Homo sapiens: one gene and its partners. The protein of the gene in region 4 interacts with the protein of the main gene of each other region in a biochemical or structural test. Each region holds a gene or a part of one and is shown on either strand. Other genes may lie near its edges. The genes, in order: YWHAE, PTOV1, PRKN, DYRK1A, SNCA and CCNL2.

What was found.
Region 1: the proteins of DYRK1A (region 4) and YWHAE form a complex in vitro, tested with the Homo sapiens proteins (one study listed by IntAct).
Region 2: of the proteins of DYRK1A (region 4) and PTOV1, one has a biochemical effect on the other in vitro, tested with the Homo sapiens proteins (one study listed by BioGRID).
Region 3: of the proteins of DYRK1A (region 4) and PRKN, one has a biochemical effect on the other in vitro, tested with the Homo sapiens proteins (one study listed by BioGRID).
Region 5: of the proteins of DYRK1A (region 4) and SNCA, one has a biochemical effect on the other in vitro, tested with the Homo sapiens proteins (one study listed by BioGRID).
Region 6: of the proteins of DYRK1A (region 4) and CCNL2, one has a biochemical effect on the other in vitro, tested with the Homo sapiens proteins (one study listed by BioGRID).

Annotation. Positions count from the first base shown.
Region 1 is NC_000017.11:1,390,223-1,393,722, reverse strand, and holds part of YWHAE (14-3-3 protein epsilon), read left to right. Parts: intron 1-3,500. UniProt on the Homo sapiens protein: Adapter protein implicated in the regulation of a large spectrum of both general and specialized signaling pathways. Binds to a large number of partners, usually by recognition of a phosphoserine or phosphothreonine motif.
Region 2 is NC_000019.10:49,857,659-49,861,158, forward strand, and holds the end of PTOV1 (prostate tumor-overexpressed gene 1 protein), read left to right. Parts: intron 1-34; coding exon 35-124; intron 125-245; coding exon 246-319; intron 320-398; coding exon 399-456; intron 457-688; exon of another isoform or gene 689-769; intron 770-890; coding exon 891-995; intron 996-1,184; exon of another isoform or gene 1,185-1,430; coding exon of another isoform or gene 1,431-1,445; exon of another isoform or gene 1,446-1,518; intron 1,519-1,547; exon of another isoform or gene 1,548-1,631; intron 1,632-2,327; coding exon 2,328-2,525; intron 2,526-2,609; coding exon 2,610-2,621; coding exon of another isoform or gene 2,622-2,661; 3' UTR 2,662-3,084; downstream 3,085-3,500. UniProt on the Homo sapiens protein: May activate transcription. Required for nuclear translocation of FLOT1. Promotes cell proliferation.
Region 3 is NC_000006.12:162,441,267-162,444,766, forward strand, and holds part of PRKN (E3 ubiquitin-protein ligase parkin), read right to left. Parts: intron 2,208-3,500; coding exon 2,044-2,207; intron 1-2,043. UniProt on the Homo sapiens protein: Functions within a multiprotein E3 ubiquitin ligase complex, catalyzing the covalent attachment of ubiquitin moieties onto substrate proteins. Substrates include SYT11 and VDAC1.
Region 4 is NC_000021.9:37,509,773-37,513,272, forward strand, and holds part of DYRK1A (dual specificity tyrosine-phosphorylation-regulated kinase 1A), read left to right. Parts: intron 1-2,138; coding exon 2,139-2,759; 3' UTR 2,760-3,500. UniProt on the Homo sapiens protein: Dual-specificity kinase which possesses both serine/threonine and tyrosine kinase activities. Exhibits a substrate preference for proline at position P+1 and arginine at position P-3.
Region 5 is NC_000004.12:89,823,662-89,827,161, reverse strand, and holds part of SNCA (alpha-synuclein), read left to right. Parts: intron 1-3,500. UniProt on the Homo sapiens protein: Neuronal protein that plays several roles in synaptic activity such as regulation of synaptic vesicle trafficking and subsequent neurotransmitter release.
Region 6 is NC_000001.11:1,385,211-1,389,335, reverse strand, and holds the end of CCNL2 (cyclin-L2), read left to right. Parts: intron 1-288; exon of another isoform or gene 289-386; intron 387-592; exon of another isoform or gene 593-710; intron 711-825; exon of another isoform or gene 826-844; intron 845-1,270; coding exon 1,271-1,382; intron 1,383-1,466; coding exon 1,467-1,559; intron 1,560-1,753; coding exon 1,754-2,105; 3' UTR 2,106-3,625; downstream 3,626-4,125. UniProt on the Homo sapiens protein: Involved in pre-mRNA splicing. May induce cell death, possibly by acting on the transcription and RNA processing of apoptosis-related factors.

The DNA of each region.
Region 1 (3,500 bases), on a different chromosome or scaffold from region 4:
CGCGGCTCAAACACCTGCAATCCCAGCACTGTGGGAGGCCGAGGTGGGCGGATCACCTGAGGTCAGGAGTTTGAGACCATCCTGACCAACATGGTGAAAACCAGTCTCTACTAAAAATACAAAAATTAGCTGGCCTGTGATGGCTTGTGCCTTTAGTCCCAGCTACTGAGGAGGCTGAGGTGGGAAATCGCTTGACCCTGGGAGGTGGAGATTGCAGTGAGCCCACATCGCACCATTGCACTCCAGTCTGGGCCACAGAGGGAGAGCCTGTCTCAAGAAAAGAAAAGCCCCGTAGTTTATCATAATGTCTGTACTGGGATATGGCTGATGCTATGCATTTCTGTAAAGTAGCTTTAAAATATTTTCTCCTCTCACTTTTATCTTTTTCCTTTTTTTTTTTTTGAGACAGGGTCTCACTTGGTCACCCAGGCTGTAGTGCAGTGGTGCGATCTTGGCTCACTGCAGCCTCTACCTTCCAGTCTCAGGTGATCCCCCCACCTCAGCCTCTTAAGTAGCTGTTTTTTTTGTTTGTTTGTATGTTTTTAAATTTTATTTATTTATTTATTTATTTATTTATTTATTTATTTTTTGGAGAGATGGAGTCTTGCTCTGTCACCCAGGCTGGAGTGCTGGAGTACAGTGGCGCGATCCACCACTCCCAGCTAATTTCTTTTGTGTTTTAGTAGAGATGGGGTTTCACCATGTTGCCCAGGCTGGTCTTGGAATTCCTGGACTCAAGCAATCTGTCAGACTTGGCCTCCCAAAGTGCTGGGATTATAGGCGTGAGCCACCACCCCCGGCCACCTTTGTCTTAGTGAATGCTATTAAGTTGTTAGGTTAGTGATGTAGTCATACAACTTTTTTTTTTTTTTGAGATGGATTTTCCCTCTTGTCATTCAGGCTGGAGTGCAGTGGCGTGATCTTGGCTCACTGCAGCCTCCGCCTCCTGGGCTCAAGTGATTCTCCTGCCTCAGCCTCCCGAGTAGCTGAGACTACAGACTTGGGCCATCATGCTTGGCTAATTTTTGTATTTTTAGTAGAGACAGAGTTTCACCATATTAGCCAGGCTGGTCTTCAACTCCTGACCTCAGGTAGTCCGCCTGCCTCAGCCTCCCAAAATGCTGGGATTATAGGTGTGAGCCACCGCACCCGGCCAGATATAGACATACAACTTCTAGGAGGGACAAAGGTTGGCATATGATTCACCAGTGTTGTTCCGGGTGGTTGGCTAGATAGCTGTCTAATGGAATCCATTAAGGAGTAGGAAAGAGCAGCAAGAAAAATGGCTATTTTCACTATTTTTGAAATGGTCAGTTAACAGTTTGAGATAGATACATATACTTTTTTGAGACAAGGTCTTGCTTTGTTGGCCAGGCTTGGATTGCATTGATGCAGTAACGATTCACTGCATCCTCAACCTCCCAGGCCCAAATGATCATCCCATCTCAGCCTCCCACTTAGCTGGGCCCACAGCTGTGCACCACAATACCTGGATAATTTAAAAGAACTTTTTTTTCTTTTTCTTTTTCTTTTTTCCCGAGACAAGATCTCAGTATATTACTCAGGCTGGGATGCAGTGTCACATTTATGGCTCACTGCAGCTTTGACCCCCTGGGCACCTCAGCATGCCAAGTAGCTGGGGCTACAGAAGTATACCACCACTTCTGGCTAATTTTTGTAGAGACAGGATTTTACCATGTTGCCCAGGTCTTGAACTCGAGCTCAAGATTCACCTGCCTCGGCCTCCCAAAGTTTTGCGATTACAGGCGTGAGCCACCATGGCTGGCAAAAAAATTTTTTTGGTAGAGGCCTGGTCCCAGCGGATTGCCCAGGCTGATGTTGAACTCCTGAGCTCATGTGATCTTCCCACCAGGTAGCTGGTACCGCCATGACCAGCTAATTAAAACTTTTTTTTTGTGGAGACGGGATCCCACTGTGTTGTCCAGGTAACTCCTGGGTTCAAGCGATCCTCCCACTGTGGCCTCCCCAAAGTGCAGGGATTATAGGCATGAACCACTGCGCCCGGCCAGCTTGATATATTTAGGTATTGATATATCCAAATTGACGAATTGGTTGCCAACAGAACCTCATGGTTCTCTGACTAAATGTTAATGCTAGTCATGGCCCTAAGAACAATTTCAGATGTTCATTTAAATTTATTAAATTGTAGCAAATAATAATGAAAGTCACCATAATTTAACATCCACATGAGTATATCTTGAAAAGACAGACTAATTCATCAGCTACAACAGCAGGCATAAACTGGGATTGTCCTGGGCAACAAACTTGCCTTGTGGTCACCCTACTTAATGGCCATTTGTTACTAGATTTTGTCATTTAGACTCATACAACAGTTTCCTAAACGTTGTCCAGCTTTTTATCACAGAGATAGCTTAGATCTACGTCTCTAGGAGGTTGAATTTTTTTTTTTCAAATGAAGTTAGCCTTTGGCAGAATATAAGTCAAAGGAAAAGTGAAAATTTCCTCCTCCTAGCTCCCTCCCCCACAAATGGGAACGTGCTAGTTAAGGATGTGGTAGTTGCTGAAAATAGAGCTTGCTGGCATTCCAAATCCTCTGATGGTGTCAACACCTAGTGTGTTGGTTTTCTTATGGCTACCTTGAGCCAGTTCTGTGTTTAAAAATATAATAGACCTAGGTGTTGGTAGCAGTGTCCTAAGCTCAGAGCTTTCCCTACATACATTTTATTTTTTTATTTTTACAAGTGTCTTTCATACCAAATACCCACATAAAAATTTAAAGGCTCACCCATATCTTGTTACAACTGTTATGTTTAGAATGCCAAACTGTGTAGTTCAGACCATATGACCATGATCCTGGCTTATCTCTTCTGAAATTTTTATCTTGAATTTATTGCCCTTCCAACAATCTACCATAGTAGCTGGACGGATCTGTTGTTGGTGGGCTTGATTTGTGATCAGATCAGGATTTTATCGAGCTAAAGCAATATGAAATGTGTTTAACTCTTCATTCATATCTAAAGTTTGAAGGAGATGCATTACTGTAAGAGTTATGACAGTATTTCATCATTTGGCAGATGTGGTAAATCTGCCATCACAGAATGCACAGGAATCACTGGGTTCCTTATCTTTCAAATGGGGATTAGTGATGTCTCTCTTGCCTACTAATTTGCAGGGTGGTTATGAAATTTTGGGCTTTTGTAAACTGTAAAGTGTAATACTTGTCGGTACTATTTGTTGTGAAACATTCTTATCTAATGTGAAAGGTCAGATAATTGTTTTTGTTACTGCTGTGCTAGGATCATATTAGATGATAACCTACCTTTTTGAGTTATTCTTAGCAAGTGTAGTCTTCTGGGCTTAGTCCTTATGTAAGATATGCACAAAGAAATATTCTCAAAATCCTTAATCTTACATCTGTAAATTTGCATATCCAAAGTAAAGGTCGTCCAGATTATTCCCAAATAATAATTTTGTCATGTTGAGCTGGTATATAGTTGTTTTGATATTAATTTTAGATT
Region 2 (3,500 bases), on a different chromosome or scaffold from region 4:
GGGCCCCTCTTCCCACCCCGTTCCCTTCCAACAGGCAGTGGGACCTGGTGGTGTCAACTCAGGCCCAGTCCAGATCGTCAACAACAAGTTTCTGGCATGGAGTGGTGTCATGGAGTGGCAGGAGGTGAGCACTCGGCAGCCCAGGGACTTGGGACCCCCAGATCCTCACGGACTGTGGCTGGGAGGGGACACTGGCATTGGGGGTCTCCAGCCCTGAGGGCTCCTCTTTGCCTCTCCCCCAAAAGCCCAGGCCTGAGCCCAACAGTCGGTCCAAGAGGTGGCTGCCATCCCACGTCTACGTGAACCAGGGGGAGATCCTGTGAGTGCTGGGCTGGGGGGTGGAGGCAGCATCCAGGGGAGCTGGGGCTTCCTGACCCTCGTCCCTTTGTGCCCCACAGGAGGACCGAGCAGTGGCCAAGGAAGCTGTACATGCAGCTCATCCCGCAGCAGCTGCTGGTGAGGGGCTGGGGCCGGGTGCTGGAGCCTGCACGCAGTAGCTCTTCCAGAGGGCGGGGCTGGGGGCAAGAGCGCCTCCCCAGGTGGCCTGAGCTGGCTGTGAGGGAGCGGAGCTGAGGGTGCTGAAGCAGGTGTGGTGGGTAGCTCCTCAGGCTTGGCTTCAAGGGGTCCCAGGCAGCCAGCTGGTGGCTGTGCAGGGACTGAGCGGGGCAGGGGCAGCCACGACCTGCACCTGGGGGGCTGCCAAGGGATCTGAGAGCGGCTTCCACAGCACTCCAGGGTTGGGCTGGTTGAGCGGTGGAGATGACGTTTCCTGAGGTAGGGAGGACAGGGGAGTCTCAGTTTGGTCCTGGGCCCGGGGGACTCAGCGGGCTGGGAGCCGGGAGGCCGTGGTGGGAGAAGCCAGAGCTGGGGGTCCCCTCGCTTCCCCGCAGACCACCCTAGTGCCGCTGTTCCGGAACTCGCGCCTGGTCCAGTTCCACTTCACCAAGGACCTGGAGACACTGAAGAGCCTGTGCCGGATCATGGACAATGGCTTCGTGAGTGGTGCCAGCAGACGCAGGGGAGGGGCCGGCCAGGGCAGAGCGAGCCCGGACCGCTCACGGGGGCGGACATGGGAGAGGAACAGAGCACCATGTCCCAGACCAGCTGGGGAGAGAGGGTGGCTAGTGTGGGCGTGACTTCTGGGGGCTCTGTGCTGTCCCCACGGCACTGGATGGGGCACTGACCCTGGTTCTGCGGGGGCCTGCTCCTCCTCTGCCACATCAGGGCTGACTCAGCACCAACTCCGCGCTCTCCACTCCTCAGGGACAGGCGCCCTTGTCACTCCTGGTTTCCCGGGAGCTTGTGCCACATCCCAAAGGCCCATTGCTGGGCAGGGAGGGCTGTCTGCCCCCAGCAAGGTCCCAGAATATTTGGCGATTGTCTTATCTGGGGGAGGCTCAGCTGACTCCTCTTCTCTCTCTCGGGCTCAGTTTCTCCATCTGTGAGGTGGAGAAGGTTGGACTTTGGTGTTTCTGAGCCCTCCCCCCGATGTCCACCTTCCAGCTGGGCCATACTTGGGTAATATCCCGAAACTACCTTAAAATTACCTTCGACTCAGTCTGAGTAAACTGTCCACGAAGCTGTTCGTGGGTGGGGGGGGCCTGGGTGTAGGTGCTTTTACATGAAAGCAATTTCAAGCATTCCCTCAGGGGCCGGGTGCGGTGGCTCACGCCTGCAATCCCAGCACTTTGGGAGGCCGAGGCGGGTGGATCACCTGAGGTCAGGAGTTTGAGACCAGCCTGGCCAACATGGTGAAACCCCGTCTCTACTAAAAATACAAAAATTAGCCAGGCATGATGGCCACTCAGGAGGCTGAGTCACAAGAATGGCTTGAACCCGGGAGGCAGAGGTTGCAGTGAGCTGAGATCATGCCATTGTACTCCAGCCTGGGCGACAAGAGCGAAACTCAGTCTCAAAAAAAAAAAAAAAGTTTCCTCAAGGAAACCCAGAAAGGCTCCATGTACCTCAGCCCTTGCTTGTGCTGGGCCGGCCGCTGCAGATCCCTCGGGCTCCTGAGTTGAAGCCATGGCCGGTTGGCTCAGGTGGCTGTGGTGAGGTGGCCCCAGACACAGCCTGGCCTGCCCAGGAGCTCTGAAATGCAGGTTCTTGGGCCCTTCCCGACAGAGCCTGTTGGCCTTTGGCCCACCCATTGCTCTTGGCCACCGTGTCATCCCAATAAGGGGGCCCACCTCCAGGGTGGGTGGGGGGTGTGAGGACAGAGCAGTTAGGCTGTGCCTGGCTCATGGAGCCCACGGCATGATGCCGTGGTTGGAGGGATGCTGGTCCCTGTGGTGCTGTCTGGTGACACCACGCCCTGTGCCTGCCAGGCCGGCTGCGTGCACTTTTCCTACAAAGCATCGTGTGAGATCCGCGTGCTTATGCTCCTGTACTCTTCAGAGAAGAAAATCTTCATTGGCCTCATCCCCCATGACCAGGGCAACTTTGTCAACGGCATCCGGCGTGTCATTGCCAACCAGCAGCAGGTCCTGCAGCGGAACCTGGAGCAGGAGCAACAGCAACGAGGGGTGAGGTGGCCGGCCTCCAGGGCTGCTCAGTCTCCCTCCACCCCCGCTGCCTGCTCACCACTGGCCTCTGATTTCTCGCCGTAGATGGGGGGGTAGTGGTTACCCCGGGCTGGGCCCCTCCAGGAGTCACAGATGAGGCCCCCGCAGAGACTGGTGAGTGGTGACCCTGTCATGTACAGGAGGGACCCTGGGGCATGTGGGGGGGGTGGGGTTGGGAAAGAAGCAGGGCGACCTTGGCCTTGGGGAGAGCAGAGCAGAGGGAGAGGCAGCAGTCCCAGCGGTCCTAGGCTGTCGGGAAACTGCAGCCCAGCCTCAGGGCCATGGGAGGTGGTATCCAGGCCTGGGTGGGGCCAGGCCTCTGCTCACAGGGATGTGGGGTCAGTGCTTGGGAGCCTGTGGCCAGCAGCCCCCACTGCACCCCTGCCCCCAGGTGACACGCTTCTGAGCAGGGGCCCCTGGGGACTTCAACTGCCCAGCAACATGGAGGATGGTGTCCTGAGGCCTCCAAGGACGGTCCCCACCCCTCTACGTTTCCCCAATAAAGCCTTTTAAAAACCTGCCTGCCTTCTCTGCTCACTGCCCGATGCCTTGCAGCCCCCTAGCTCTAAGGTGGCCCAGCAGGCTGGACAGCCCGGGAACTCACTGGGTCTGGCTCTCGGCTGTCCACACCCTCTTCCCCCCCGAATCTCCAGACCCGCAGGCCTTGGGTTCAAGTTCAGTGTCACAGAACCTGAGCTGGATTTTGTCCTCAGGGGTCACACCTGGCCTTGAGCCAGCCCCTCGGTTGAGGCTCGTGGGCTCACCAGCTGGCTCTCGGGGGGCCACACAGCGCCCTCCCTGTGTGTTCCCCGGCTAATGTCTAAAGTGCTCATGCCAGGTCCCAGCTGGACTCCCCTCGGTAGGGCCCCACCTTTTGTTACCTGAAAATGTCCTTAAAGCCTCCTCCATGTAAGAAACTGGCAGGCCTGGAGCCCC
Region 3 (3,500 bases), on a different chromosome or scaffold from region 4:
TTCAATGCCAAGTTAGTCAAGGTTATGTGAAATATAGCCCATATTTTATTTTTTGTCCAATCTTCAACATCTCTCTTCAGGTTCTAGAAGAACAAGAACCCATCCTTTTTGGCAAGCATTCTCTATGCTCATTCCCCTATTCCTCCATCTACAGAATCCTACCTCAACTCAATTCATCCAAGAAGTTCTTCCTGGTGACTTCCAACCAGATGTGTTTTCTCCACCTTTAAAACTTCATAATATTTTCAGGTGCGATACGGCAGTTATGTTTCATATTCTTATATTATAGCTATTAGGTTGAACAACATGAAATTGTTGAACCTGTAAAAATGGCAATCCCATATGGTTCAATCTAATATTTCTCTCGGTTTTAGGGCTCATAAATAAAGAGCAGTCTCCATGAAAACAGGGGCTGAGTTAGGTCTCTCTTTTGGATCCCCTGAGAAGCCTAGGACATTGGAAGTGCTTAAGAAGTGTTTGTCAAAATAGACTCATAAATCAACACATGTCTTAGGCATATATGTTTGCAAAGTCAATCATCTGAAGCAATTAGTCTAACTACATATGAAATCGCTAATTGTTTTATGAATCAGCACAAATGGCAGTTTAGAACCTGAAGGTTTTGGCAATATAAAATGTTTTGATTCAAGGAGCTGTTTTAAAATTATTTATTTGTGAAGGAAACATCCTTGGATTTAGAGGTTGGCAGATACAGTGAAAATCTTTTTAGTTGACTGAAATAGAAAAAAAAAAAATCAAAACCCTTTTTAGCACATGCACTTCCCTTATAAAACCAAATTGCCTGAAAGCAGAGGCCAGCAGTTTGTGCACAACGAGTATGTGCCTCAACACCATCAGCAGGAGATGCAATGCAGAATGACAGGAACAATTTGCATTTCTGTAGCTTCTTTGTATACCCAAATTCTGAGAGCATTTTACAAAGCCATAAATATCGTTACCCACAAGAGACAGGGAAAGGATGCAGATACAAGGACGGACTTTGTGTACTCTGACCCAGGAGCCCCCCTGCGCGGAGCAGTGATACCCACACAGCTGTAAACCTGAGTGCAATTAATTGATGCTGGTTAAGAAAAGGGGAACATACATCTGCAGGGTCCTTCACAGTCACAGGGACCATTCCCAGAAAGCGTTTCGTCTTTCTTGCATTCACAAAGAATAGCGTCAACAAATGTTGAGTTGTATTTGCGAGTTTCCCCAACAAAGGACGGGTCTCTAGTTCTAGGTGATGGTGGTATTATCAGTCACCTCACCAGTCCCCCTAATTCCTACAAAAATCACCAATCCGAATGACATGTGTGTAGGGCTTTCATGGGGCTAGGAGCAGTGGGCTGCCAGAAGCTCTGCTGGGGCCAGGAGAGAAGAGAGCATCGTTCACACTTATTACGTTGCAGGGGCCTATTTCCAGGGACAATGTTACTGAACCTTGGAGAAATTCATGCAAAGGTATACTGTTGTTGTGCTCCAGGCTTCCTTCCCCATCAGCTGCAGAACTGTGCGATTCTGGTCCTGGCCAAGGAGTGCCCAAAGCTAGTTGCCAATGGGCCCCGGAGCCCACACCTCCTCTAGCGCAGCATAGCAGCAGCCCTCACTAACCTCCAGGGGTCACAATTGGGTTACAAATTCCTCACAGTGCAGGGACTGAGCAGCCTGATTGGGAACAATTTATTCGAATCCTTCTTCGTTAAGATTCAAATGGAATAAGTAAGGTAGAAATTGAACAGACACAGAAATTGTGCCTTGCTGCTCCTGTAGTCAGTAGACATTTATTCACTAAGCCTAGCTCGTGTGTTCTTTCTCTCTCTCTTTCTCACTCGCAGTTGTTCTTCCAATCTTTCCTGCTTGCTGTTTTAATGCATAATTAAGAAGGTCAGAATTAATGAAGCAGTGTGGAGTAAAGTTCAAGGAATCCCCAGGCACTATTTATTCTATTAGATCTCAGGCATGAATGTCAGATTGGCAGCGCAGGCGGCATGAGCAATGGAGCTGGCGGCATCCCAAGAACGGCCGCCAAGGGAGACTCACCTGCACAGTCCAGTCATTCCTCAGCTCCTTCCCTGCGAAAATCACACGCAACTGGTCAGCCGGAACCCCCTGTCGCTTAGCAACCACCTCCTTGAGCTGGAAGATGCTGGTGTCAGAATCGACCTCCACTGGGAAACCATGGCTGGAGTTGAACCTGACAAACACTGACCAAGGAAATTGGAAGGGAGAAGAGAAAGTGAGCATCACTCGAAGCCCTTAAATGGTGATAGCAACATTTCTCAACCGATTTACCCCTCGCAGCCCTTCAGTGAATGGTATATATTTTCTTTCACTTACAACAAAAAACTTAATGCTATAGAGCAATATTTGGGAAAAACAGAGTTAGTTACCCACGAGATTTCCCTTTCATATATTCGTCAGTGACCTGCAAACCAAAATTGCATTCTCCCTTTGACATCCATCCTGGGAAACAGAGAGACTTGAGCAGGACACTTGCTTGATTGGAATTGAAAGAGTCCCATGAGTTTATTGAAAAGACTCAGCTCTGACAGCATGTACACACTCACACTCCCTCCACAGTGACCCTCTTAATAAAAATAGGAGGCGATGTGTTAGCACTCAAGGTATAGCAATGGAAAAAAATCTAAGCTGCTCTATAGACCAGAGTGAAGACCCACTCGGGGCTATGGCTCAGAGCCCTAGACTTGGGTGGTCCTGGCCAAAATGCTCCACTGGGTCTATGAAGACAATTATTTGCCCTCTTTTTGGCAGGGAGGGGGTGGAGACACTAGTGACACCATTTGTCTTATTGAAGCCACTGTTCCCCGTGAGACCCAGGCTGCATCCTCTAGTCTGTCTGTCTGCATGCCGTCTTCTCACTGCACCTGCTGTCCCACCTCTTCAGCGTCTCTCACTGCCCTTTACTTTCCATTCTTTCTCTCACTGCTTGAAGTCACGCTCTCATCACATCTTTTCTAGAGTCTCATAATAGCCCCCAACTGGAGTCTTGATCCACGCCATCACCTCCAAAAGGCCCTACATAGTTCTGCAAAATGAGCCTTATTAATACAGAGCTATGTCACACCACTCAAATCCTTTAAGTCTCACACTGTCGGCTGGTGAGGAAAGACTCCAAGATCCCTTTCATCTAGCACAAACCTACATTCCAGCATTTTCTTCATTAATCTCCATGTGTACTCTTTTAAACTAAATGCTCCCAGAAAAAAAAAAATCACAAAAAACTGCTGCACACAACTTCTTGCTTTTATTCATGACCTCCCTCCTTCTCCTCTTCCTATTGAAATCCTGCCTACCTCCATGGCCCACTTCAAATGTGACCTCCCCCAAGAAGCTTCTGGCTATCAGCTACTGCAAAAGCCTGATCTTCCTTATTCAGGGCACCAGTGGCATTTACTATATATGTCTTTTAATATTCACCACATTCCTCATGGAAGCAGGATAGCACACGGGTTAAAAGAACATCCTGAAGCATTAGG
Region 4 (3,500 bases):
TATTTACAAATGGTAGTTTAATAAATAACCCTGTACGGTAGTGTCCCTTCTTATCCACAGTTCCAGTTATTCAGTCAGTCACGGTCCAAAAATATAAAGTGGAAAATTTCAGAAGCAATTCGTAAGTTTTAAATTCTGTTATGAGTAGCACGATGAAATCTCATGCTGTCCCACCCTGGGCATGACTCATCCCTTCGTCTAGCATGTCCACACAGTAGATAAGTTACTTTGCTTTGTAGCCATCTAGATTATCAGATCAAAAAACATAGTATATAGAGGGTTTAGTCCTCTGCAGTTTCAGGCATCCAGTGGGGATCTTGGACTGTATCTCTTGTGGATAAGGAGGCACCACTGTACATGTCTCATTCACACATAGACATTTTATCTGTGATATAAATTCCTGAAAGCAGAATGACTGTTTCAAAGGGTAATGTGATTTATAATTTTGATAACTATTGCCAGATTGCCCCCCATGTGATTTTCTAATCCAGTAACTTGATTAACTTCATATAAAAACCATATAGTATTTTCTGAGAACTCACTGCCAGCTTTTCTACTGATTGTTTTCAGTAGTATCTCTTAAAAGTTTGGTTCTCAGACCACCTTTGTTGAATAAACCCTTAACAATTTGTGCCAGCCACTGGATAGAGACTGAGCCTTTTGCCTTCCTAGAGCTTACAGTGACACAAGTAAATAAAATGAACATGAAGAAAAATGGCAAGTAGCATTAGCTGTTAAAAAGAAAATAAGGATAATTTGGTAGAGAAAGACTGTTTGTTGGATAGGATGTATTAATTAGAATAGGCCAAACTCTGATATAACAGACCCCCAAAATATGGTAGCTTAAAGAGTACCAAGTTTCCTTCATTTTTGTGCAACAGTCCAGAATAGGTGTTCAGGTTAGTGGCTAGGCCGTCTTCCAGGTCCTGATCTCCTACCATCTTGTGGTTCCACCTTGCCCTAGGGCCTACTTGTCTACTGTGTCCAGCAGGCAGAAGGACTTGGGAGGTATTATCTTGTGTGCCAGGCTAGCAGTGACACAAGCTTTCATTCACATTCCATTGACAGCTTAGACATATGGCCATCAGTAAGTACAAGGGAGGCTGGGAAGTGTTGTGTAGCCATGTGCTCAGGAACGAGAAGAATATTGTGCACAACCAGTAGCTTCTGCCACAGTTGTTGAGGCAGCATCAGCCAGAGTGGTCAGGGAAGGCTCTGGAACTGAAGCGATGAAAAAGAGACATCCAAGCAATAAGAAAATCCAAGAAATAACATTTCTAGGCAGAAGGGAGCAGCGTGTTACTAGTACACTGAGGCATTTGAGAGATTTTGACCCAGGGGAGGAATGGAAGGCAGGTCTTCTTTGTTTGGAACTCAGGTAGCCAGGGATAGGATGGGTGGAGAAAGAGGTTAGAGAAGTGGGCATTGGCCAGATGATGCAGATCGTTGTATCCATTTGGGTTTATTTTGTTTTTCTAAGTGCAGTGAGAAGTCATTAAAGGATTTTAAATAGGGAAGTGATTGGATTTGTGTTAAGAAAAGATTGTTCCTGCTACCCTTTGGAGAAGGGCAAGGATGGAAACAAGGAGTTCATTTAAGGGGCTGTTGTGTTAGCGTAGGCAAGAGATGATGGGGATGAAGAGAAGAGGCCAAATTTGGAATCTGTTTCACAGGTAGACTCATAAGTTCTTGCTCATGGGTTGGACAGAGGCATTGTTGAGCAGCTAGGTAGATAGTAGTCCTTTATTGAAAGAAGAAAGATGGAGAGAGGAAGGACATGAGGGAAAAGTAAAGACTTCCTTTTGGACCTGCCCAGAATACTGTCCAGCCCTTTTCAGGAAATATTTGCTGACCCCTGGCATAAACAGGGCTCCCAAGGAAGGACAGTGGCTAGTGAAATAGATGAACCTATTTAAGGATATAACTTCCTAAAAATTGCAGCTTTCATGATGAAATTTTTTGCCCTTGAATGTATTTGGGATTTTGTGTTATAAAACTGTCTTAACACATTAAAAGTTTCAAAAACCGTTTCCCCCTGATTAATATGATGCTAGTTTGTTAGTGTCATGGCTTTTGATGGAAGATTAAAGCTTGGAAACAGTCCTCTGAAAAATCCTTTTAAAAATCTGTTCTTTCAGGTGCGTCAGCAATTTCCTGCTCCTCTTGGTTGGTCAGGCACTGAAGCTCCTACACAGGTCACTGTTGAAACTCATCCTGTTCAAGAAACAACCTTTCATGTAGCCCCTCAACAGAATGCATTGCATCATCACCATGGTAACAGTTCCCATCACCATCACCACCACCACCACCATCACCACCACCATGGACAACAAGCCTTGGGTAACCGGACCAGGCCAAGGGTCTACAATTCTCCAACGAATAGCTCCTCTACCCAAGATTCTATGGAGGTTGGCCACAGTCACCACTCCATGACATCCCTGTCTTCCTCAACGACTTCTTCCTCGACATCTTCCTCCTCTACTGGTAACCAAGGCAATCAGGCCTACCAGAATCGCCCAGTGGCTGCTAATACCTTGGACTTTGGACAGAATGGAGCTATGGACGTTAATTTGACCGTCTACTCCAATCCCCGCCAAGAGACTGGCATAGCTGGACATCCAACATACCAATTTTCTGCTAATACAGGTCCTGCACATTACATGACTGAAGGACATCTGACAATGAGGCAAGGGGCTGATAGAGAAGAGTCCCCCATGACAGGAGTTTGTGTGCAACAGAGTCCTGTAGCTAGCTCGTGACTACATTGAAACTTGAGTTTGTTTCTTGTGTGTTTTTATAGAAGTGGTGTTTTTTTTCCAAAAACAAAGTGCAAAGCTGCTTGAATCAGGAGGAGATTAACACACTGAACCGCTACAAGAGGGCAAAGCTGATTTTTTTTTTAACTTGAAAAGATTGCAAAGGGACATTGAAGTGTTTAAAAGAGCCATGTCCAAACCCATCTTCATGGATAGCTCAGAGGTATCCTCTTTTTGCTCCCCCATTTTAACTTGCCACATCCCAGTCACAGTGGGGTTTTTTTGTCTTTCTATTCAGCAAAAGTTAATATTCAGATGTTGGTCTTGGTCATTTGCCAACTAATTTTAAAGTAAAAGGCACTGCACATAATTTGCATAAAGGGCCCCATGAGGGTGTTTTTTTTTTTTCTTTTTGTCCCCCCCATCCCCCTTTTTTTTTGTTTTGTTCTGTTTTGTTTTGGGTGGGAGGGTGGGAAATTTGGGTTTTTAAGTCCTCTAAACACACTTGGGCACGGAAATGCAGTACTGTAAGGAAGAGGGACCTCCAGCTTCCACAAACACCATCTTCAGCTGTATGAAAGGGACGGTTGTGGTGAAGTTTGTCAGGCACAGTAAGCATGCTGAGTGGCGGGGATCAGAACTCTCCTATCTGAACCTACTGAGGAGCAAAGCAGCAATTACATGGGATCCTGTGGCTCTCCCGTTGCAGAGGCCACAGGAAGATAGGATGGAACGTGACTGGTC
Region 5 (3,500 bases), on a different chromosome or scaffold from region 4:
TGTGTTTTTTGCAAGATTCTTCACCTCTGTGTGATTTAGCTTCCTCATCTATAAAATAATTCAGTGAATTAATGTACACAAAACATCTGGAAAACAAAAGCAAACAATATGTATTTTATAAGTGTTACTTATAGTTTTATAGTGAACTTTCTTGTGCAACATTTTTACAACTAGTGGAGAAAAATATTTCTTTAAATGAATACTTTTGATTTAAAAATCAGAGTGTAAAAATAAAACAGACTCCTTTGAAACTAGTTCTGTTAGAAGTTAATTGTGCACCTTTAATGGGCTCTGTTGCAATCCAACAGAGAAGTAGTTAAGTAAGTGGACTATGATGCCTTCTAGGGACCTCCTATAAATATGATATTGTGAAGCATGATTATAATAAGAACTAGATAACAGACAGGTGGAGACTCCACTATCTGAAGACGGTCAACCTAGATGAATGGTGTTCCATTTAGTAGTTGAGGAAGAACCCATGAGGTTTAGAAAGCAGACAAGCATGTGGCAAGTTCTGGAGTCAGTGGTAAAAATTAAAGAACCCAACTATTACTGTCACCTGATGATCTAATGGAGACTGTGGAGATGGGCTGCATTTTTTTAGTCTTTTCCAGAATGCCAAAATGTAAACACATATCTGTGTGTGTGTGTGTGTGTGTGTGTGTGTGCGTGTGTGTGAGAGAGAGAGAGAGACTGAAGTTTGTACAATTAGACATTTTATAAAATGTTTTCTGAAGGACAGTGGCTCACAATCTTAAGTTTCTAACATTGTACAATGTTGGGAGACTTTGTATACTTTATTTTCTCTTTAGCGTATTAAGGAATCTGAGATGTCCTACAGTAAAGAAATTTGCATTACATAGTTAAAATCAGGGTTATTCAAACTTTTTGATTATTGAAAACTTTCTTCATTAGTTACTAGGGTTGAATGAAACTAGTGTTCCACAGAAAACTATGGGAAATGTTGCTAGGCAGTAAGGACATGGTGATTTCAGCATGTGCAATATTTACAGCGATTGCACCCATGGACCACCCTGGCAGTAGTGAAATAACCAAAAATGCTGTCATAACTAGTATGGCTATGAGAAACACATTGGGATAAATCGGCTGCTATCATAATCATTCCTCTCCCACATCAGATAAATGAATTAACTTTTTGAATAGGGTTATTTAATATAAAGTGCTTAAGTCTAATTATGAGAAGAAATAAGATAATTACACTTCAATGGTTAAAGAGAGGGAGAATAATTTGCATATTATGCCTGATGTAAAATGTTTATTATGGGTACATATTAAGTGCTAACTAATTGTTAATTGTTCTTGCTACAAGTCTTAATGCAGGGAAACAAGAAATTATTACATAGTACCTAATATTATCTTCTAATATTAAAGAAACAATTTCCCCTAAATTCATCCCATTAGCTTTTTTTTTTTCGGTGGGGCAGGGGAGAAATACAGACTTCAGTAAACTTGGGCTGGGAACTTTCTACCTACAAAGTTCAAATAAAATAAATTATCCTAGTTAGATAATATCAATGAAAAATCCACCAACTTAAATCCTGGCTGTTTGATCTCAGGAAATTATTTCAGTTATCAACTTAATGCATCATATTATAGAAATATATGAAAATGTGTTTAATTAAACTTACTGAATGATATGTTTTTTCAGGTACTTTAAAAATAAACTATGATATAAAGTTACCTATTTTTCATGCAAGTATAGTATAAAGAAATTTCTAACACTGGAGATTTTCTGAAGGTTTTGATTCTTATAAATTTATTACATCATAATGAACAAAACTAATTTTCAACATATTATGATTTAAATTTCCTTAGTAAATTGTTTCAAATTTATTTTCTTTAAATCCATATTTACATATGTATATTTAAATATACATATTTACTTGTATAACAATTCAAAACCATATATTAATTTTATAATTTTGTTTAATGTCAAAGGTTAGATTTGGCTATATCTATTCTAAAAGTTGGTATCACATTTCCTTTTTGGAATTTTATTTTTAAAGTAGCTAAAGTCAAATATAAACCTATTATTTATATTAATGCAGACATTAGAGGTAGACACTAAATTCATTTTAGTATATTCTAAATTATTTATTATCTACTATGAAATAATATAAAGAAAAATAAAGCAGAATCCCTGATTTCAAAGAACTCAATTGCCGAAAAACAGTTACCATTTATTAGACCCAAAATGTACTAATATGAGTGTGTCTCTTTTCCTTTTGTTTTGTCACCCGTCATTTGGAATGTCAGTGAGTAGAGAGATAGTGTGAAAGGCCCTCAAGGGGAAAAATAGAGGTTAAAGGTCAGCAGAGACCCTACTAGAGAAATCAGTTCTACAGAAATGTTTTTAAATGTGTCGATTATTGCTACATGTACACTCTGTCATTTTGTAATGTAGCCATTTTATTTATGATTATAATAATAAAACAACAAAATTATAATAATGTGTAGAGTACATTTTACTGTGCAGTGTATTGCATTAAAACTAGATTAAAATTTATACATATATAAAAGGCTATCTAGATATTATAAAATTTATGGCTGGATCTGTAAAAAATTCAAAACCTATTTTTAATCTCGCTTTGAGATTTTATAACAAGAAAATGTTCGTTTCAAGCAAAATTTTCAATTCACGTCCTTGAAAAGGAAAAAAATGACAACTTGAAACACATAATTGACTATTTTTAAAGGATCAACATTTCAGAAATGTTTTAAAACATAAGATTTTCAGTACAGCTTTTCGCTGGCATTTAAATCGAACTTTGAATTGTAAATAGCTCTTGCTCTTAAGGAGACATCAGCCATATCCTTAGAAGTGGCACGGAGTTGTTAGGTAGTTGTACAAAATTCTAGCCTAAAAGACAAATAGGGAGCAACACTACTGTGGACCGTTTCTGGTCTTGGGCTGTGTGGCTATGTCAGGCTTGCCCACATTGCCTGTACTAAGGAGAAAGCCTCTTGTCCTTACAGACCCCCTTAGCTTACATAGTCTATTTGAAAACAAATTGCTTTGTCCACACCATTTAAATATTGGCTTCAGGCCAGGCGCGGTGGCTCACGCCTGTTATCCCAGCACTTTGGGAGGCTGAGGCGGGCAGATCACGAGGTCAGGAGATCGAGACCATCCTGGCTAACACGGTGAAACCCTGTCTCTACTAAAAATATAAAAAAATTAGCCGGGTGTGGTGGCGCGCACCTGTAGTCCCAGCTGCTGGGGAGGCTGAGGCAGGAGAATGGCCTGAACCCGGGAGTCGGAGTTTGCAGTGAGCCGACATCGTGCCACTGCACTCCAGCCTGGGTGACAGAGCAAGACTCCGTCTCAAAATAAATAAATAAATAAATAAATAAGTAAATATTGGCTTCTTCAACTGGTGAGATGAAACCTATACAATAGTCATGTGAATAGCACTAAACAGCTGACATGGTGTAACTCCTCTCAGACTGAGGCTTATCTGGGGAGTACAAAGCATGTC
Region 6 (4,125 bases), on a different chromosome or scaffold from region 4:
GTGCAGTGGTGCGATCTCAGCTCATTGCAAGCTCCACCTCCCGGGTTCATGCCATTCTCCTGCCTCAGCCTCCTGAGTAGCTGGGACTACAGGTGGCCGCCACCACGCCTGGCTAATTTTTTGTATTTTTAGTAGATATGGTGTTTCACCGTGTTAGCCAGGATGGTCTCAATCTGGCTTCGTGATCCACCCGCCTCGGCCTCCCAAAGTGCTGGGATTACAGGCATGAGCCACTGCACCCGGCCTGCATTTCTTTTTTTGAGACAGAGTTTCTGTCTTGTTACCCAGGCTGGAGTGCAATGGCGCTGTCTCAGCTCACTGTAACCTCTGCCTCCCGGGTTCAAGCGATTCTCCTGCCTCAGCCTCCCAAGTAGCTGGGATTGCAGGTACCCGCCACCACACTGAGCTAATTTTGTATTTTTAGTAGAGATGGGGTTTCTCCATTTTGGTCAGACTGGTCTTGAACTCCTGATCTCAGTTGATCTGCCCGCCTTGGCCTCCCAAAGTGCTGGGATTACAGGTGGGAGCCACTATACCCAGCTTTTTTTTTTTTTTTTTTTTTTCTGAGACGGAGTCTTACTCTGTTGCCCAGCCTGGAGTGCAGTGGCGCTATCTGGGATCACTGCAAGCTCCGCCTACCAGATTCTGGTGATTCTTGTGCCTCAGCCTCCCAAGTAGCTGGGATTGCAGGCGCCCACCACCACGCTCAGGTAATTTGTGTGTGAGTGTGTGTCTATGTATATATATATATAGAGAGAGAGAGAGAGAGACACACACTCACATGTTTTGGGGTTTTTTTGTTTTGTTTTGTTTTTCTTGAGACAGAGTCTCGCTGTGTTGCCAGGTGAGTACTGTGGCGTGATCTCGGCTCACTGTAACCTCCGCCTCCTGGGTCCAAGCGATTCTTCTGCTTCAGCCTCTGGAGTAGCTGGGACTACAGGCGCGTGCCACCAAGCCCAGCTAATTTTTGTAGTTTTAGTAGAGATGGGGTTTCACCATGTTGGGCAGGATGGTCTCAATGTATTGACTTTGTGATCCGCCCTCCTCGGCCTCCCGAAGTGCTGGGCTCACAGGCGTGAGCCCCCGCGTCCAGCCCCATCTGCATTTCTGTGATGTCTGTGTAAGTTCTGGGTCCCAGCTGGGAGCCGGAAGTTACAGTCTGCTTGCGTCGCTGTTTGACCTGTAGAGGGGCCTTATCTCGCTCTACGAACTTGTTTCTTATTGGGAGAGTGTTTTGTGGTTGGCTTTTAACCTCTTGTTCTGATTCTAGTGGAATCCCCCAAAGAAGGTAAAGGGAGCAAGCCTTCCCCACTGTCTGTGAAGAACACCAAGAGGAGGCTGGAGGGCGCCAAGAAAGCCAAGGCGGACAGCCCCGTGAACGGGTAGGACCCCAGGGCTGCCCAGGTGGCTGTCAGGGTTGGCTGGAGGGACTTCTGCTTTGTAACTGGCTCCTGTCCTGTTCACAGCTTGCCAAAGGGGCGAGAGAGTCGGAGTCGGAGCCGGAGCCGTGAGCAGAGCTACTCGAGGTCCCCATCCCGATCAGCGTCTCCTAAGAGGAGGTGTGTGCCTCAGGGCGCACCCAGGAGGCCGATACCGGGGTGGGGCTGTCCCTCGGGGTAATCATTCTCACCCTGAGGTGGTTTCTTGTTTCTCTAAACCTGGAGCTTGTGTGTCTTGTCTGAGCTCCTGTGGGTGTGTGGGGCCTGGCCGGGCCAGATGGTCACACGTGTGGTGGTGCTGTTCTTCCTCCCAGGAAAAGTGACAGCGGCTCCACATCTGGTGGGTCCAAGTCGCAGAGCCGCTCCCGGAGCAGGAGTGACTCCCCACCGAGACAGGCCCCCCGCAGCGCTCCCTACAAAGGCTCTGAGATTCGGGGCTCCCGGAAGTCCAAGGACTGCAAGTACCCCCAGAAGCCACACAAGTCTCGGAGCCGGAGTTCTTCCCGTTCTCGAAGCAGGTCACGGGAGCGGGCGGATAATCCGGGAAAATACAAGAAGAAAAGTCATTACTACAGAGATCAGCGACGAGAGCGCTCGAGGTCGTATGAACGCACAGGCCGTCGCTATGAGCGGGACCACCCTGGGCACAGCAGGCATCGGAGGTGAGGCGGGGTTGCAGTGACTGGTGGCCGCAAGCCCTTCCCTGGGGAGTACCTGATGGCTGCCCTTTGACCCCCGGTGGCTGCCCTTTGACCCCCGGGTGTGCTCTCAGCGCAAGTGGTCCTAGAACAGGATTCTTTTTGGAAATGTCTGTCGACTGGACCTTGGTGGATTTGGAAATGGAACTGAGGGACCGGTGACACGTGCTTCAGACCGGTCTGGGGTGCGGCGCACACCTGGGCCCGTGCAGGGCTCAGCTCGGCAGCAGCTCTGAGGGCAGCTCAATGAAAAAGTGAATGCACACGCCCTTGTTGGCGTGGCCTGGCATGGCCTGGTGCTATCGGCAGCCGCTCTCCACTCCCCGACTGATACTCAATTACGTGAAGCCAAGAAAGATGATTTTTAGAACCTTTGCCTATATTAGGTTGTACTTATGTACATATTTTGCAGTGTTTCACAGGAGAAAGTGGCCTTAACTGCCCCTTATTCTCTCTCCACGTTGTAAATAAACATGTGTTTAATACAAGTTAAAGCTATGTATGAAAACTCAGAACTTGAATCCCGTCAGCTTAAAACTTGTGTAGGGAATCCTGACTTTTAAAATGTGAGGGTATTTGGATCTGTGTTGAAAGTCGTATATTTTTATCTGTGCGGTGCTGAGTGCAGGCCACCAGCTCCTAAATAGAGGTTCCCTATATGCGCGTATGACATGGTGAATAAACACAACTCTCTCCACTCAGGACATCCGGAGCGTTATGGACGTGGTAGGTGGTCGTTCTGTGTGCTTGTGAAAGTGTCCAGGCGTGTGCACAGCCAGTGCGCCCACTTCCGGGCTCCTTGCTCCCTGCTGTACTGAAGTTTTGGATTTTGCATCCAATCCTGTGTGCCTGCCCTTCTGCCGAAGGCTTGTGAGGGGCCTGAGTCCTCTGCCCATCAGGATGACAGGCTCCTTCCTGCAGGGCCATAGGAGGGAAGTTTTGGAAACACAGAATGATTCCAAGGTGCTCTCGTTCCTGAGGGGGACTGGTTTGTAACCCATGACATCTGTGGGCGAGAGAGGCAGCTGGGAGCAGGACACTTGGAGGGTCACCCCACGGGGGTGGCACCTGCACTCTGAGTGCCCCCCACTGTCATCAGCTGCCTCTTACCGTGGACACAGTTTTGGTTTTGGGGACTAGGGGGCCCCACTCCTGGTGGTACCGTTTGGACTTACTAGGGCAGTGGGACATATAGGCCGGGGCTAGTGGGATAACGGGGAGTTACGCCTGATGACTTTTTTGATGGAATCCTGCATTAGATAGCTGGTGGGACCCCCCCTCAGAATTGGGGAACTGAGGAGACTCCAGGGAGGGTGTCCTTCCAGGGAGAGCAGCTATGAGGGGCCCCCTAGCTTCCTGTGCCTGGAAGTAAGAGAACCAGTAAAGGGCCATACACACCTGTACCCAAGAGACCGCTCTCCATTTGCTTTCTTTTTTTACTAAATAATTGTAAAATATTATTATGACATAAAGAACCATTTAAGGCCAGATTTTATGTTCTCCTAATTTGCATTGCGCCCAAATGGTGTTGCAGTAGAAAATGAGTTTTGGCCGCGTGGTGGGAGGCCGGGCGCGGTGGCTCAGGCCTGTAATCCCAGCGCCGTGGGAGGCCGGGCGCGGTGGCTCAGGCCTGTAATCCCAGCGCCGTGGGAGGCCGGGCGCGGTGGCTCACGCCTGTAATCCCAGCGCTGTGGGAGGCCGGGCGAGGTGGCTCACGCCTGTAATCCCAGCGCTGTGGGAGGCCGGGCGCGGTGGCTCATGCCTGTAATCCCAGTGCTGTTGGGAGACCGGGTGCTGTGGCTTACGCCTGTAATCCCAGCACTGTGGGAGGCTGAGGCAGGCGGATCACGAAGTCAGGAGATTGAAACCATCCTGGCCAACATGGTGAAACACTGTCTCTACTAAAAATACAAAAATTAGCTGGGTGTGGTGCTGCGTCCCTGTAATCCCAGCTACTCAGGAGGCTGAGGCAGGAGAATCACTTGAAC